Linked DNA regions of Homo sapiens: region 2 is linked to region 1. Evidence: fine-mapped expression QTL. Tissue or cell type: whole blood. Region 1 holds a variant in brackets; the other region holds the start of a gene. All regions are shown on one strand. Distances are between the middles of the regions.

Region 1 (8,466 bases):
TGTGGGTTTGTGATAGATGGATTTTACTATGTTAAGGTATGTCCCTTGATGTCAATTTTGCTGAGGTTTTTAATCATAATGGGTACTGGATTTTGTCAAATGTTTTTTCTGCATATATTGAGATGATCAAGTGATTTTTGTTTTTAATTCTGTTTAAGTGGTGTATCACATTTATTGACTTACACATGTTAAACCATCCCTGCATCCCTAGTATAAAACCCTTTTGATCATGGTGGATTATCTTTTTGATATGCTGTTGGATTTGGTTCACTAGCATTTTGTTGAGGATTTTTGCATCTATGTTCATCTGGGATATTGGTCTGTAGTTTTCTTTTTTGTTACGTCCTTCCTTCATTTTAATATTAGGGTGATACTGGCTTCATAGAATGATTTAGGGAGGAGTCTCTTTTCTCCGTCTTTTGTAATAGTGTCAATAGGTTTGGTACCAATTCTTTGAATATCTGATAGAATTCAGCTTTGAATCTCTCTGGTCCTGGACATTTTTTGTTGGCAGTTTTTTATTACCCTTTCAATCTTGCTGCTTGTTATTGGTCTGTTCAGACATTCTATATTTTCCTGGTTTAATCAAGGGGATTGTATATTTCCAGGAATTTATCTATCCCCTCTAGGTTTTCTAGTTTATGGGCATAAAGGTGTTCATGATAGCCTTGAATAATCTTTTGTATTTCTGTGCTGTCAGTACTAATATCTCCCATTTCGTTTCTAATTGAGCTTATTTGGATTGTCTCTCTTCTTTTCTTGGTTAATCTCACTAATGGTCTATCAATTTTATTTATCTTTTCAAAGAACCAGCTTTTTGTTTCATTTATCTTTTGTATTTTTTCCCAATTTTATTTAGTTCTCCTCTGATCTTAGTTCTTTCTTTCCTTCTGCTGGATTTGGGTTTGAATTATTCTTGTTTCTCCAGTTCCATGAGGTCTGACCTTAGATTATTTATTTGTGCTCTTTCAGTCTTTTTGGTGTGGGCATTTAATGAACTTTCCTCTTAGCAATGCTTTTGCTGTATCCCAGAGGTTTTGATAGGTTATGTCACTATTATCATTCAGTTCAAAGAATTTTTTAATTTCCATCCTGATTTCATTGTTGACCCAACGTTCAGGAGCAAGTTATTTAATTTCCACATATTTGCATGGTTTTGAGAGTTCCTTTTGAAGTTGTTTTCCAATTTTATTCCACTGTGGTCTGAGAGAGTACTTGATATAATTTCAGTTTTCTTAAATTTACTGAGACTTGTGTGTTGGCCTATCATATGATCTCTCTTGGAGAATGATCCATGTGCTGATGAATAGAATGTATATTCTAGGGCCAGGCACAGTGGCTCACACCTATAATCCCAGCACTTTGGAAGGCCAAGGCAGGTGGATCACCTGAGTTCAGGAGTTCAAGACCAGCCTGGCCAACATGTCGAAAACCCATCTCCACTTGATCTTAGCCAAAAGGCCAAGAAGCGATTGGAACCCCATCTCTACTAAAAATACAAAAAAATAAAAGATAAAAATTAGCCGGGTGTGGTGGCAGGCACCTGTAATCCCAGCTACTTGGGAGGCTGAGGCAGGAGAATTGCTTGAACCCAAGAGGTGGAGGTTGCAGCAGTGAGCCGGAGCCAAGATCATGCCATTGCACTCCAACCTGGTGACAGAAGGAGACTCTGTCTCAAAAAAAAAAAAAAAAGCATATTCTTCAGTTGCTTGGTAGACTGTTCTGTAAATATCTGTTAAGTCCATTTGTCGTAGGGTACATTTAGATTTAGGTTCACTGTTTCTTTGTTGACTTTCTGTCTTGATGACCTGTCTAGTGCTGTCAGTGGAGTATAGTCCCCCATTATTATTGTGTTACCATCTATCTCATTTATTAGGTCATAGTAATTGCTTTATAAATTTGGGAGCTCCAGTGTTAAGTGCATATATATTTAGAATTGTGATATTCTCCTGTTGGGCTAGTCCTTTTATCATTATATAATGTCCCACTTTGTCTTTTTAAACTGTTGTTGCTTTAAAGTTTGTTTTGTCTGATATAAGAATAGCTATTCCTGCTTGCTTTTGGTGTCCATTTGCATGGAATATCTTTTTCCACCCCTTTACCTTAAGTTTATATGAGTCCTTACGTGTGTTTATATGAGTCCTTAAGGGTTAGGTGAGTCTCCTGAAGACACAGAAACTTGGCTGGTGAATTCTTATTCATTCTACTGTTCTGTATCTTTTAAGTGGAGCATTTAGGACATTTACATTGAATGTTAGTGCTGAGATGTGAGTTACTATTCTATTCATTGTGCATTTGTTGCCTGAATACCTTGGCTTTTTTCATTGTGTTATTGTTATATAGGTCCTGTGAGATTTATGCTCCAAGGAGGTTCTGTTTTGGTGTATTTCAAGGATTTGCTTCAAGATTTAGAGCTCCTTTTAGCAGTTCTTGTAGTGCTGTCTTGGTAGTGGCAGATTCTCTCGGCATTTGTTTGTTTGGAAAAGACTGTATCTTTCCTTCATTTATGAAGCTCAGTTTTGCTGGATACAAAATTCTTGGCTGATAATTGTTTTGTTTAAGGAGGCTAAAAAATAGGTCCCCAATCCCTTCTAGCTCATAGGGTTTCTGCTGAGAAATCTGCTGCTAATCTGTTAAGTTTTCCTTTGCAGGTTACCTGATGCTTTTGCCTCACAACTCTTAAGATTCTTTCCTTTGTCTTGACTTTAGGTAACCTGATGATTATGTGCCTAGAGGGTGTTCTTTTTGTGATGAATTTCCCAGGTGTTCTTTGAGCTTCTTGTATTTGGATGTCTAGATCTCTAGCAAAGCCAGGGAAATTTTCATCGATTATTAGCGCAAATATGTTTTCCAGACTTTTAGATTTCTCTTCTTCCTCTGGAACACCAATTACTCACCAATTATTTGGAAGGTTTAACATAGTCCCAAACTTCTTGGAGGCTTTGTTTATTTTAAAAAATTCCTTTCTCTTTGTCTTTGATGGATTGTGTTAATTCAAAAGCCTTGTCTCCAAGCTCTGGAGTTGTTTCTTCTGCTTGTTCGATTGTATTGCGGAGACTTTCCAGTGCACTTTGCATTTCTCTAAATGTGTCCTTGATTTGCATAAGTTGCGATTGTTTTTTATTTATGCTATCTGTTTCACTGAAGAATTTTCCTTTCATATCCTGTATCATGTTTTTCATTTCTTTAAGTTGGATTTTATCTTTCTCTGGTGCCTCCTGTATTAGCTTAATTCTGAATTCTTTTTTTGGCAGTTCAGAGATTCTGTCTTGGTTTGGATCCATTGCTGGTGAGCTGGTATGATCTTTTGGGCGTGTTAAAGAACTGT[GTT/T]TTGTCATACTACCAGAAGTGTGTTTCTGGTTCCTTCTCATTTGGGTAGACTATGTCAGAGGGAAGACCTGGGATTCAAGGGCTGCTCTTCAGATTCTTTTGTCCCATGGGGTGCTCCCTTGATGTGGTGTTCTCCCCCTTCCCCTAGGAATGTGGCTTCCTGAGAGCTGAACTGTAATGGTTGTTTTTGCTTTTCTGGGTCTTACCACCCAGCAGAGCTACCAGGCTCTGGGCTGGTACTGAGGAGTGTCTGCAAAGAGTCCTGTGATGTGATCCGTTTTCAGGCCTTGCAGGCATGGATACCAGCACCTGCTCCAGTGGAGGTAGCAGGAGACTGAAGTGGACTCTGTGAGGATCTTTGGTTGTGTTTTTGTTTAGTGCACTGGTTTTGTGTTGGTTAAGCTCCAGGCAGGAAGTGCCACTTTCAAGAGTTTATCAGCTGCGGCCCTGTAAGGAGGATGCAAATTTACCCTAGGGAGACCTGGTTAAGTATTCAGGTTTCTCAGGCAGTGGGCAGGGCCATAGAGCTCCCAAGAGATTATGACCTTTATCTTCCGCTACCAGGGCAGGTAGAGAAAGACCATCTAGTGGGGACAGGGATAGTGTGTCTGAGCTGAGCCTCTCCTTGGGCGGAGTTTGCTGCAGCTGCTGTGGGGAATGGGTGTGTGGCTCCCAGTCCAAGGGAGCTATATTCCCTGGAGGATTATGGCTGCTTCTGCTGAGTCATACAGGTTGCCAGGGAAGTGGGGGAAAGCTGGCAGTCACAGGCCTCACTTCACTCCCACTCAGCCCACAGTCCTAAAGGCTGGTCTCACTCCCACCGAGGCCCTGCAACAGCACCAAGTCTATTTCTAGGCAGCCCATGACCAGGGCTGAGAACTTGCCCCAGACCATGAGCCTCCCGGCTGAGAAAACAAGTTAACTCACAGTTTTTCAGCATCTCAGGGAGCCTGCAGCAGTGATCCAGTTCCTTCAAACTGTCTGTGGATTCTCTCGGCTTTCCTGGTATGTGCCTGAGAAAGCAAGTTGACTCAGTTTTTCAGCATCTCAGGGAGCCTGAAGCAGTGATCCAGTTGCTTCAAACGTCTGTGGATTCCCTCGGCTTTCCTGGTATGTTCCTGTGCTACAAGAATTGTAGCAAAAAAGCTCATGATGTGAGTCTCCACATGCTGCTCTCTCCATATGAGCAGGAGCTGCAAGCTAGTCCTGCCTCCTATTCGCCATCTTAATCCTGGTTTGGGCTGATTCCATGTCTTTGCTATTGTGAATAGTGCTGTGATGAACATACATGTGCATGTGTCTTTATGGTAGAACAATTTATATTCCGTTGGGTACATACCCAATAACGGGATTGCTGGGTCAAGTGGTAGTTCTGTTTTAAGTTCTTTGAGAAATCTCCAGATTGCTTTCCACAGTGGCTGAACTAATTTACACTCCCACCAGCAGTGTCTAAGTGTTCCCTTTTCTCTGCAACTTTGCCAGCATGTCATTTTTTGACTTTTTATTAATTGCCATTATGACTGGTGTGAGATGGTGTCTCATTGTGGCTTTGATTTGTATTTCTCTAATGATTAGTGATGTTGAGAATTTTTTCACATGCTTGCCCATGTGTATGTGTTCTTTTGAGAGTATCTGTTCATGTCCTTTGCCCATTTTTTAATGGGGTTATTTATTTTTTGCTTATTGATTTGCTTAAGTTCCTTACAGATTCTGGATATTAGACCTTTGTCAGATGCATAGTTTGCAAATATTTTCTCCCATTCTGTAGGTTGTCTGTTTACTCTGTTGATAGTTTCTTTTGCTGTGCAGATGCTCTTGGTTTAATTAGGTCCCACTTATCAATTTTTTTGTTGGTTGCAATTGCTTCTGGAGTCTTTATCATGAACTCTTTCCAGGGCCTGTGTCCAGAATGGTATTTCCTAGGTTTTCTTCTAGGTTTTTTGTAGTTTTAGGTTTTACATTTAAGTCATATGTCTTTGTGTAAGTATTTATGAGTTGTAATTTTTTTTTTTTTTTTGAGACAGAGTCTCGCTCTGTGGCCCAGGCTGGAGTGCAGTGGCACGATCTCGGCTCACTGCAAGCTCCATCTCCCAGGTTCATGCCCTTCTCCTGCCTCAGCCTCCCGAGTAGCTGGGACTACAGGTGCCCGCCACCATGCCTGGCTAATTTTTTGTATTTTTAGTGGAGATGGGGTTTCACCATATTAGCCAGGGTGGTCTCCATCTCCTGACCTCGTGATCCACCCACCTTGCCTCCCAAAGTACTGGGATTACAGGTGTGAGCCACCGCCAGCCTATGAGTTGCAATTTTTTAAGTGGAATTAACGAATGAGAACGTGGCCAGGCATGGTGGCTCACGCCTGTAATCCCAGCACTTTGGGAGGCCAAAGCAGATGAATCACTTGAGGTCAGGGGTTTGAGACCAGCCTGGTCAACATGGTGAAGCCTCATCTCTACTAAAAATACAAAAATTAGCCGGTTATGGTGGTGCATGTTTGTAATTCCAGCTACTCAGAAGGCTGAGGCACAAGAATCGCTCGAACCTGGGAGACAGACGTTGCAGTGAGCCGAGATCACGCCATTCTACTCCAGCCCGGATGACAGTGAGACCCCATCTAAAAAATAAAAAAAAGAATGAGAATGTTTTAGAATACCCAGGACTGCAATCAAGGTCACCTAAGTTTAATTTCTGGGAAGCAGATTTGAAATTGATTGAATTTAGTGAATAAAAACTGAATCAATTTTATCATGAGATGGTGAGAATGAAGCATAGAAAAAGAAAACCCAGTGAGCAAAAAGTATACATTGTTGTCCAGCATGCTCAGTCAGTGCGAAAATATTTATTGAATATCTATGATAGAGCAGGCACATGCAAAGGAGTGAGACACTGACTCAGACAAACAGGAATTCAGCCCTAGAAAGATTCTCTCTCTGAGGAGGTACTGCTAATCTATTGCCCCTGTCTGTGGCCTTGATCAGATTTCATCTTCACTGAGCAACTTCAGGTTTATGCCCTGATCCTGCATGTTATACATGAATCTTTCAGGCATTTCAAAGAATGTCTCCCAATAAAACAACCACTTTCAGAATCATAATAGCAACATCAGTGTTTACTTTGCACCTGACAGCCACTAAACACTTTACAATCTAATTTAGTCTTTGCAGTTATTCTCTGAGGTACGTAGTATCTCCGTTTTCTAGATGAGGAAACTGAGGCTTAGCAAGATTAGGTCAGTTGTCCAAGATCACATTGCTCCACATAGTGGCAGAGTGAAGATAAGGACATAGTTCTGAGTCCAAAGCCCGTGGTCATAATCCCTGAGCTATCCTGAGTCTAGGATTCTGGTTTAGACAATTGGTCCTTCATTAATCAGTTGAAACAAATCAGTGCTTTGCTGTCCATCAACTTTGAGTGACCTGATAAAGCTTAATTTTTGCCTGACAGCAGGCCTTGACCCAAGATTACATAAATTCATGGCACCATAGTGAAAGGCTTAGCTTGGGAGCCAGTGCACATCCCAGAAGGACATCTATCTTACTTTTGCCCTTCTAATCCCAAAAAAGGTAAACAGCAACAAGGACCACAGTGTTTATGTAACAGGAAAAATGGCCCGTGTGTGAAAGACATAGTATTCTTCCTGAGAGGTTTTCTTCCATGTCACTGCTACTTGCAAGTATCTTACAAGGCTATTGATTAAGAGTTTTATTCATTAACAGCAGTGAGGTTACCCTAACTAATACAGTTTCACTGTGAAGATATTTTCTATTCAGACTTAAAAGACTAATTTTGCCAAGGAGTTTGCAAAGCCCAGAAGAGTAGCTTTGAAGACATTGAAAGTGAGGTTCAAAGGACAGCTCATATTTTGTTGTGGCTTTATTCAAAACATTTATGGCAATGATGAGTTTATTCGGATGATATGAGAGGGAATAATATTCTATTAATGATTTTTTGAAGGCATCTATACAATTTCATCTAAAAAATCTCTTGTGAAATTCACAGTCTTTAAAATAAAATGAATAGGCTTATCATTTGGGTTCTGATGCCTGTGTTCTCATCGGCTGAATGGTGTGTTCTCATCTGCCAAATGAGGGGTAGAGATGAATGAGCCGGGAAGTACCTTCCAGCATCAACATTCTAGGCTGGCTCAACATGGGAAATTTAACTTAAAGTAGGAGTAATCGCTTATTACAAACAGTTCAAGACTTAGGGACAAATGAAGCTTCTCGCTCGTCTTAACTCTGAGCTTGGAGCAGAAGTCATGAAGTGTCTGTGTAAGAATGTGAGCATATTTACAGACACCAGCTGATATAAAGGATTCTAGCTACATTTTAACTAGGCTATCATTTTTTTAAAAATCACATACATTGTATGACTCTACCTTAAATAAAATGATTAATTGAAGTATTTCTTTTTTTGTGCAAAGTAGAGTACTGCTAGATCCTCGAAAGGTTTCTAAGAGAAAACACATCAAGGCGCAGTGGCTCACGCCTGTAATCCCAGCACTTTGGGAGACCAGGGCGGGCGGATCACGAGGTCAAGAAATCGAGAAAACATATCAGCTCAGCTAGGCCAATTTGACTTCCTCTTCCTTCCGTCATTTTCTTCACCCCTTTGTTCTCTGTCCTTTGAACTCCTCCTCATTAGAGCCCCTGGCTCTCTAATTTCACAGTCCCACCATTTGACATTGAATTCACCTTTCCTTTTGACAGGACCTGCTGCTTTATCTTTTCCCTTTTCTAACTTTGCAAAGATAAAATCTTATTTCTCAATGAAAACTGAGACTCAGATACAAGGTATACCCAAGAATTGACTTAATTGTCAAAGAAAATTAGTGATGAGTCAGATAACTGAGCTAACCCAAATCCAATTTTAAATCTGGTATAATAATGGTCCTTTTTCAAACTCAGAGCATAACCAAATCACTACTTTTTGAAGGCTTCATGAAACTCAATCAAGCATACAGCAGGGTATGTGAATGGCAATCTTTACAAGAATCATTAGTACCAGCCTGCCTTTCACCGGCTTGAACCTAACCAAGCTGGAACAACCTCAGGTATAACTAGAAACTGAAATCTAAACAGCAAATTTTAAGCTTCTGCTCCGTTGAGGGTTAAAGTAGCAACTGCAATTAATTTT
Region 2 (8,189 bases), 52 kb after region 1:
AGTAAATAAAATACAAACATGTAAGTACATATATATACACACATACATAAACATCTGTGTAAGAGTCTGGAGAGAGGTGTCCAGACTTAAAACATTCTAAGGTTTTTGGATTGTCTAGGGGTAGTGTTTAAGATATTTAACTTAAAACTTTATTGTATTAAATATGCAAGGCAAAAATTTAAGGGTAACACTAAGAAAAATTGGTAGCATAAATTTGAAAAAAAAAAAAGAATAAAACACACATGCCCGACATTTTTTTTAAAGGCAAGGAAGAAAAAAGCATAGAAAAAAAAAGAGACTAATAAAATTAGTTCAAACAAGTCCAAATGTATGTCAATAATTACAATGAATGTAAATGGAATAAACTTGCCAATTAAAGGTTATACTGCCATATTGGATAAAAAAACAAAATCCAGCTGCGTGAAGTTTATGAGACACAAAATAAAAAGGACAGAGAAAGGTTGAAAGAGAGGTGGGGAGCGAAAAGATATATAAGGTAAACACCAATAAAAAGAGAGCTGGGATGTTACCTTAATATTTGACAAAAATTTTAAGACAAAAAGCAGTATTGGTGATCAAGAGGGCAACTACTAAATAATAAAGAATAAATTCATCAGAAAGGAAAAATATAACAATTTAAATTTCCATTTTCCTAATAGCCTCAAAATATAAAAAGCAAAAATTCATAGAATTTCAGGGTAAAATGGCCAAATGCAGAATTATAAGTTCTCCTTGTTCTTTACTGTAAAAATCATACATAGTGAATACATTCAAAAGATATTTGTATTAGCTTGTGGGATTAAGGATTTTTCTCCATTTTCTAAACTTTATTGCTGTGATATTGATTTTATAATTCATATACTTTTTTCAGAAATGAACTATGCGGTGAAATTTTTAAATAACTGATGGTTAATTATGGTTTTACTAAATTTGGGGGTAATTACTGTGTATAGTTTTAGATCCTGCTCCCAATGATTATCAGGTTGTGTACATTTTAAAGATAATTTCTTGTTTGTGTTTTGCTAAAATTTCAAATGATTTTTACATGGACTCAAGTGGTTCAGACACCACTTGACTTACACATTAAAGAACGTGGCTTACTACACAGTTTCTGCTTTACTCAATAAGAATAAAATAATTCTGGAAAGAATGCATAATAATGCACTCCAAACTTAAATATGCTACTGATTGTTAATGGCTACATTATTCTGGCTATTTGTATCAACAACACAGCCACAACTTTTCTAAACTTCTGCCCAGATATTACAATTATCCTAGGGATTACTTACTCTCAGAAAAGTAGAGGAAGATACAAATTGGCAATTCTTTTTCTCACACTGATACTCCTTTGGACTTAAGTGAACCAATATTGTTATTACTAAAGCTCAGTATTCCACCTCTATTTATACTTTCTGAAACGTATAAGCAACACTTAGATGAAATAGGAAGGGATCACTGTACACAAATGGAAAATAAAGCAGCATGCAAGGAAGCTGGTTCTAAAGAAAACAAGCACAGGTGGCCGGGCATGGTGGCTCATGCCTGTAATCCCAGCACTTTGGGAGGCCGAGGCAGGCGAATAACGAGGTCAGGAGTTTGAGACCAGCCTGGCCAACATGGTGAAACCCCGTCTCTACAAAAAATACAAAAAATTAGCTGGGCGTAGTGGCGGGTGTCTGTAATCCCAGCTACTTTTGGGAGGCTGAGGCAGGAGAATCGCTTGAACCCAGGAAGCGGAGGTTGCAGTGAGCCGAGATCATGCCACTGCACTCCAGCCCTGGTGACGGAGTCTCATCTCAATAAACAAACAAACAAAAAAGCACAGGTTACTTTATTACAGTACTGAAAACCAAGACAGCACATGGACTCTCTTTGAATATATAACCTAAAAATTGAAACTGTAAAATTTAATCTATTATACAGAATTTTTTTCATAGTTGTTTAAATTTTACTGTTTGCAATTCTAGAAAAATAACATCATGTTGGAAAAGTAAGCAGTAATTTAAAATGAATTATATTTTGAAAAATATAGAAGAATGACAAGAATTCTAAATTTTTGTGAATATTTTACCCAAGAAATGTGTTTTAGAATCTTTTGAGATTTGAATTAGAAAATATTGTTGGTCAAATTCTTTCACTGTTTAAAGCCAACAATAAAAGAATAGGAAAAGAATGTAGTTATTTCCAACTCTGTGCTATAACAATAAGATAGTAACGTCTAGAAATTATATCTTAAAACCTTCAGAGTAAATTAATAAAAATTCAACATACTTCAAGTTATCACTGTATTTTTTCTATAATTACCTTTTCGTTTACTGTTTCAATTTATTGAATTATACATACAATGAAGAGCACAATAAATGTACATACAGCTTGATGAATTCTCACATAGTGAGCCTGTGTTACAAGTAATCTATTATTAACTTTTAAGATGATACAGTGCTATGATCGAAGGACTAAAATGATCAACATCACCATAAAAGGCAGAGTCATAAACAAGAACAATTAAGTGTAATTAAATCAGGTGGGAGGCACACTTACAAAAATGAAACAATTTTTGGTTCACATTTTACACCACACAGGTATTCTGTATCTTTAGAACATGAGAAAATACATATTCTCAGTCTGATAGGTCTCTGACTTGGGGGTTTCTTTTACTGTACTTTTTTTCTCTCTAGTAGCTGAACATTTTAAAGCAATCAGCAGAAAAAATATAAAACTTCAGAACCAATTAGACTTTTAAAAGCAACGTTCTTGCCCTTTCCAGAGATACATTCCTTAATCCTCCTACAAATCATGACCTCACACGATAACTTTAAGGGTGAACATCAACTTATCTACATTTTGGTGCTTTCTTTCCCTTAAGTGGCAGATGGTTTCTATTAACCTAAAATTGAAGTCATTGTTGGGGGACCCCTAATTCCATGTCTAGTCCTAGTGCCCAGAGGCTACCAAAGACGATACGAATAGCTTCTCAGGCACTCTACCCACCGTTTACCTTGTTAATACAAATCTTTCCCAGACCTGGGTCCCGAAATTATTTTACCCTGCAGAGCAGAAATGTTACGGTGTTCATTCAGTGAACTCTTCCCTAGTTTTTAATCTTTGTATTTTCTGCGTATACTTCAAGCCACCAGTAACTTTCCCAGTTACCAAGAAACAGTGTAACACAGGTCGCTATTTGTTTTGTTCGGAATTTACGAGCAATTTAACCACACGTGATTAGCAACATTAAGGGGGCTCCTCCAGGCAAAGAATCCACAGAATGAGAGGCCCTTGGTACCCAAATGAAGCAACAATGAAAGATCGGCGAAGCTCAGCAAGGTTCCTGAGCGCCACGGACGCCTGCTCTGATTTCAGGTTGCCGGCGCGCGCCCGCGGGTCTGCCTTTATGGACGAGGCGCAAGAGGGATCCAGGAAAGACGGTGCCCTTAGAGACTCGGAGATTAGCGTGGGCAACCCTGCCACCAGCTGCCCCTGCCACCAGCCGCCCCCACAACAAAAAGGAGGAAACGCTCCGCATCCCGTCACCAGGACAACTCTGTAACCCGACACCGAGGCTCAAGATTCCGCATCCCGGGCAGCGAACACAGGAGAAAAGCACATCGCGGCCCGGCCGCGGGGCTCCAAGGCGTCCGTGCCGCCGCTGTTCCTGGGGTGCCGAGAGCGACGCGGGGTCCACCCTCTCCGCCGGCCCGAGGTCCGAAGCTCGGCCCGCCACCGCTCCCGGCCGGCGCCTCCCGCACGTGGCGGCCGTGATTGTCCCGGGGCGGTATCCCTCCGCGCCCCCGCCTCAGTCTCCCCCCGCCCTTCCCGGGACCCTCCGTGCCCGGGCGCCGCGGAAGGATCGCACGCACGCGCGCGCGCACGCCCAGCCGTGTCCGCGGAAAACGGAGGGCGCTGCGGTAAGGAGCAGCCGCCACAGGCACAGCCGCTTCGCAGCCTCCCGCCGCTGGTTTGTCAGCCCCGCGGCTGCGGGCGGCCGGGCGGCCGAGCGCGCTCTGAGGTTCGTCCCTCATCGCTGAACCCGCGTCCTCCCGCCGCAGCTCCTCGGGGAGGGGGGCGGTCGGTGCCTGCGCAGAGCCGCCTCCTCCCCGCCCCCGCCCCGCCTCCCCCCGCGCCGCCGCCGCCCGCTACCGCCGCCGCCGCCGCTGCGCCTGCTGCTCCTCGCCGTCCGCGCTGCAGTGCGAAGGGCTCGAAGATGGCCGGTTGGCAGAGCTACGTGGATAACCTGATGTGCGATGGCTGCTGCCAGGAGGCCGCCATTGTCGGCTACTGCGACGCCAAATACGTCTGGGCAGCCACGGCCGGGGGCGTCTTTCAGAGCATTACGGTGAGGACCAGTGGCGGCCGGTACCCTGGTCCCTGCACCGGAGCGGGGTGGCCGGCCGCGGGGGCACCGCAGCGCGGGGCTGGAACACTGAGGGCCGAGCCCGCAGGTGTGCTAGGCAGCGGGCGCCGAGGATGCGGCTGCCGGGCGGGCGGGGAGGCCGAGGCCCGGGGACGCCCCCTCACCCGGGGCTGCGCTGACAGGCTGGGGGCGGCGGCCGGACTCCTTGCTGGCCCTGGCCGGGCGCCCCCGGCGTTCCCAGCGTCGGTCCAGGTGCCCGGGTTGGGGGAGGGGGCACGCACCGGCCAGGGCAAGGGGAGGGGTTCCTTTTTTCCTCCTAGTGCGGTTCCCCTAGGTTCTCTTGAAGCCCTGAGGTTTGCTATGCACGTTCTGGGGTGGAAGCGGGGGTCGGGGATCCGGGCTGGGGCGCGCGGGCCCCGGGTGGAGGTCCCTAGGCTCTCTGGCCGGCTCTTGCTCCGCGGACAGCGCGCCTCCCGCGCCTCCGGCTGTGGGAGGCGGCGGCCCCGGCCCGGCCCCCGGGATTCTCGAAGCGACTTTGCGTAGGTTTACCGATGTCCAGGCCTCTGGGGCTTGCGAGAGATGTACGCCGACCGCGTAGGTGGATTCGTGAATCTCGACTTCAGCTCTAGCTCTATAGGTTGTTTTTTTTTTTTTTTTAAATTCTCCAAGATGGCGAACTGCCATTGATTTCTCTTCTCATATGGAGATTCATCGATATACGGTTATCCCCAGTTATGCAACATAGCTCAAAAAAGGGGTGCTTTTCGGGGGCTTTCAATTATCTGCGAAGACCAGGAGCACACTTCACTTCTCTAAGTCCCTCCCTCTTTAGTGGTGGCAGTAAAGGAACTAATGCAGTTTTATGCTTCACATTGCCTGATTTTCTTGAGACTTGATGGTTTTGAGTTGGTTGCAATATGTTTGGAGAATATTTGCCACAAAACCTCCAGCTTATTGTTTTGCCTGTTTCTGCCCAAGGCTGTTTCTAAAATTATGATAATTGTACTAAATACGAGACCATTCTCTTTATTTCTTAGCACCACGCTCCCTTTCCATTAAGCACCAAAATTCAGGTCCCCTATTAAGGGTGCTAATTATTCTTTTACCACTTAACATGGTTTAAAGTCTAACTTTAGAACTCAGTCCTTGATAGTAGTACTTTAAGGTCTCGTATACCCGCAGTGGACTACAATTCTTGTAGGGAATTGGCATCTGGTCATCAACTTTTTTCCTGCAGTCCTCTTGTCTTTGTGTGTGAGTTCCCGCTGTCTGACTAGGAAGATTGCGGGAGTGTGCTTGGAAATGGCTGGGGCCTGCTATGACTCTGCAGTTCTGATGGGGGCGACGCCTTCCTTCTTATTCATGGAATGTTAGAATGCACGTTTTCTCCTTTCCGGTTCTGGTGGCTACCTCAGTTTCTTTCCCAATCTCCCTCCATTTTTTCTGTTTTACTATTGCCTACCGCAGTGCTGTAGACAGAATCCACTTTGCGTTTGCCCAGAAAGAAAACTGATTACTGAGATGGGAGGGGAAGGGAAGTTGGAAAGAAACGGGAGTCGTGGCTAGAAAAATAGGAGGGAAATATGAATTTGGAAAAGCACTGATGTCCAGGGGTTGAAGTCCATCTCATCACGTATATTTCTAGTTACTCTAAGCAGAGAAGTGAACACATCAAAGAACAGGCTTTATTTTGGGAGACTTTGAAGCAACTTTAAATTTGATGAAACATGATTTACTGTAATGGGACTGAATATGATAGACCAGCTTTGTTCAGAGTTGATAGCTGAATTTTTACCATTACGTGAACACTTTCAGGCACCAGCTGACTTAATACAGTTTATAAATAACTCTTTAAGTTTGCACTTTGTCTAGTGTCAACTGTCAACTCTTTACAGTTTCTTTGTATAGACTGGTCTTGGTTAAGAGACGACATCATTAACTGAAGTCAAATCAACTCATGTAAAATATGTGATTATATAGGATTAAATAATTATTTAGAAAAGACTGAATCTTGGTTTTACATTAGTGAAATGTGGCTATCTGGCAGTGGTAGCATAAGCCTAGCTACAGCCCTTCCTGTTACATCAAGCCCTAAAAGGAGTTAACTACAACTTAATGTGTGTGTGTTTTTTTTTTTTCTTTTTGGTGGGGGGCAGCCAATAGAAATAGATATGATTGTAGGAAAAGACCGGGAAGGTTTCTTTACCAACGGTTTGACTCTTGGCGCGAAGAAATGCTCAGTGATCAGAGATAGTCTATACGTCGATGGTGACTGCACAATGGACATCCGGACAAAGAGTCAAGGTGGGGAGCCAACATACAATGTGGCTGTCGGCAGAGCTGGTAGAGGTGAGTAAGGCATTCTTTTGGTTAAAGTTGCATGCCACATTACAACTTATTAAGCAGTTTCTTTTAACATTTTGAATAAAAGTTAGTCCATAATGGCTATTAAGGTGGTTTTTGTGAACTGCCCAGCACTATGGAGAAGCACTGCTTTAGTTTTACCTACTCTACAGCATCTATGACCTGGCCTCTTAGATCCTGATTTTGTTTCTACGATAGAATATTCGTATGAACTCACTTTCAGCTTTATTAAACTTAAAAGTCTCTTAAACTGCTTGACATGTCAAATCATAATCCTGTGGTGTTTCAGATTGTTAAATTGTTCGAATCACTTGGTTATTTTAGTCCCTTTTGGTGTGTGTTTGACCTTTGGATCTCTTTTCTTTTTTTTCTTGCTTGTATTCTAACCATTTCACTACTCAGCATAAAGAAGGAAAAATTAACATCCGTTCATTTTTCAGTTAGGAACTTTGCTGGGGAAAAGATAATTAGATGAGGATTTTGGAGTAAGTTGTCCATTCACTGAAATATTTTCAAAGATTGTGTCTGAGACTTAGATTTGAAAAGTAGGAAATTACATTTAGTTTGTATACTTGGTCCAGAAATTCAGGTGTCTCCAGACTGTTGTCAGCATTATAGAAACTCTTAATTGCACTAAAGAAGTCTCCCTACTTTTTCAAAATAAACTTTTGAAATTGAGTTTTATTATGACATCTAATTGATTTACAAATACATTTTAATGTGTTAACGCATACGAATATTTTGTAAATAGAGAGTGCTTCTGTAGCCTCACATAGCTGACTTGGCACATCTAATTTTAATAACAGCTCTACCATGTGAGGGGAGTTGAAGCTGCTGTGAGTTATAATTAATGCTATGGCTCTACCAGCTCCCTGTGATTATCCTAAAAGTTACTCGTATTCTGGTGTGAGTTGATGTTTATAAGGATTTATAAGAAAATTAGATGACTTTGAAATAGTGACAAATCTCTTTAAACCTTAGCTGCACTATACGCTGAAAAGAAGCGTCAAACACAAGACAAAAAACCAGAATATTTTATACGATACAGCACTACTGACATCTAGTGGTAGTGAATATAAAATTTGACATATACATATATTTTGGGTTATACACCTTTGAATTGCATCATAGAAGAGCAATTAGAAATCGTAAACCTATTTTTTTAGACGCAATTAAAAACAAGGCTACTACGGTGAAGTTATCAGTAAGCAAACACCTTAAATAATTTAATTTGGCCTTTTCTGAATGATACTGAGTATGCTACTTAAAATTTGATCTTCATTTTCCTCTGGAAATAATAGATACATTTAGCCTCACTGGTAAAACTTAATAGTTTAAACTTATCAAGCATGTTAAAATTTGGGGAGAGTTTGTAAGTAAGTAACTCCCCAGGTTTATTAAGTTTATATTTTGGGGGCAAGTAATAACATGTACTTGACATCAGCCAGAATTTTTTTGCCCTAAAATAGAAGAC

Evidence for each region. PIP is the estimated chance that this variant, and not a neighbour inherited with it, causes the effect.
Region 2: PFN2 starts here. The variant in region 1 is fine-mapped to the expression of PFN2 in whole blood (INTERVAL, PIP 0.94).

The regions. Positions count from the first base shown.
Region 1 is chr3:150,018,489-150,026,954 of GRCh38, reverse strand. All of the region lies in intron 1 of LOC124909445 (a long non-coding RNA gene), which reads left to right. Among named protein-coding and RNA genes, the nearest start is that of PFN2, 52 kb to the right of the region's middle. RefSeq lists an enhancer at 3,397-4,596. The variant GTT/T (reference allele first, on the strand shown) is at 3,329.
Region 2 is chr3:149,966,869-149,975,057 of GRCh38, reverse strand. It overlaps PFN2 (profilin 2), which reads left to right and starts at 4,163. Exons shown (of 3, transcript NM_053024.4): 1 at 4,163-4,333; 2 at 6,508-6,700. The coding sequence starts at 4,202. LOC646903 (a long non-coding RNA gene) reads right to left here and starts at 3,779. Exons shown (of 1, transcript NR_036538.1): 1 at 1,816-3,779. RefSeq lists enhancers at 2,900-3,430, 3,431-3,962 and silencers at 3,808-3,867, 4,098-4,177, 4,388-4,627, 4,638-4,687, 4,708-4,967.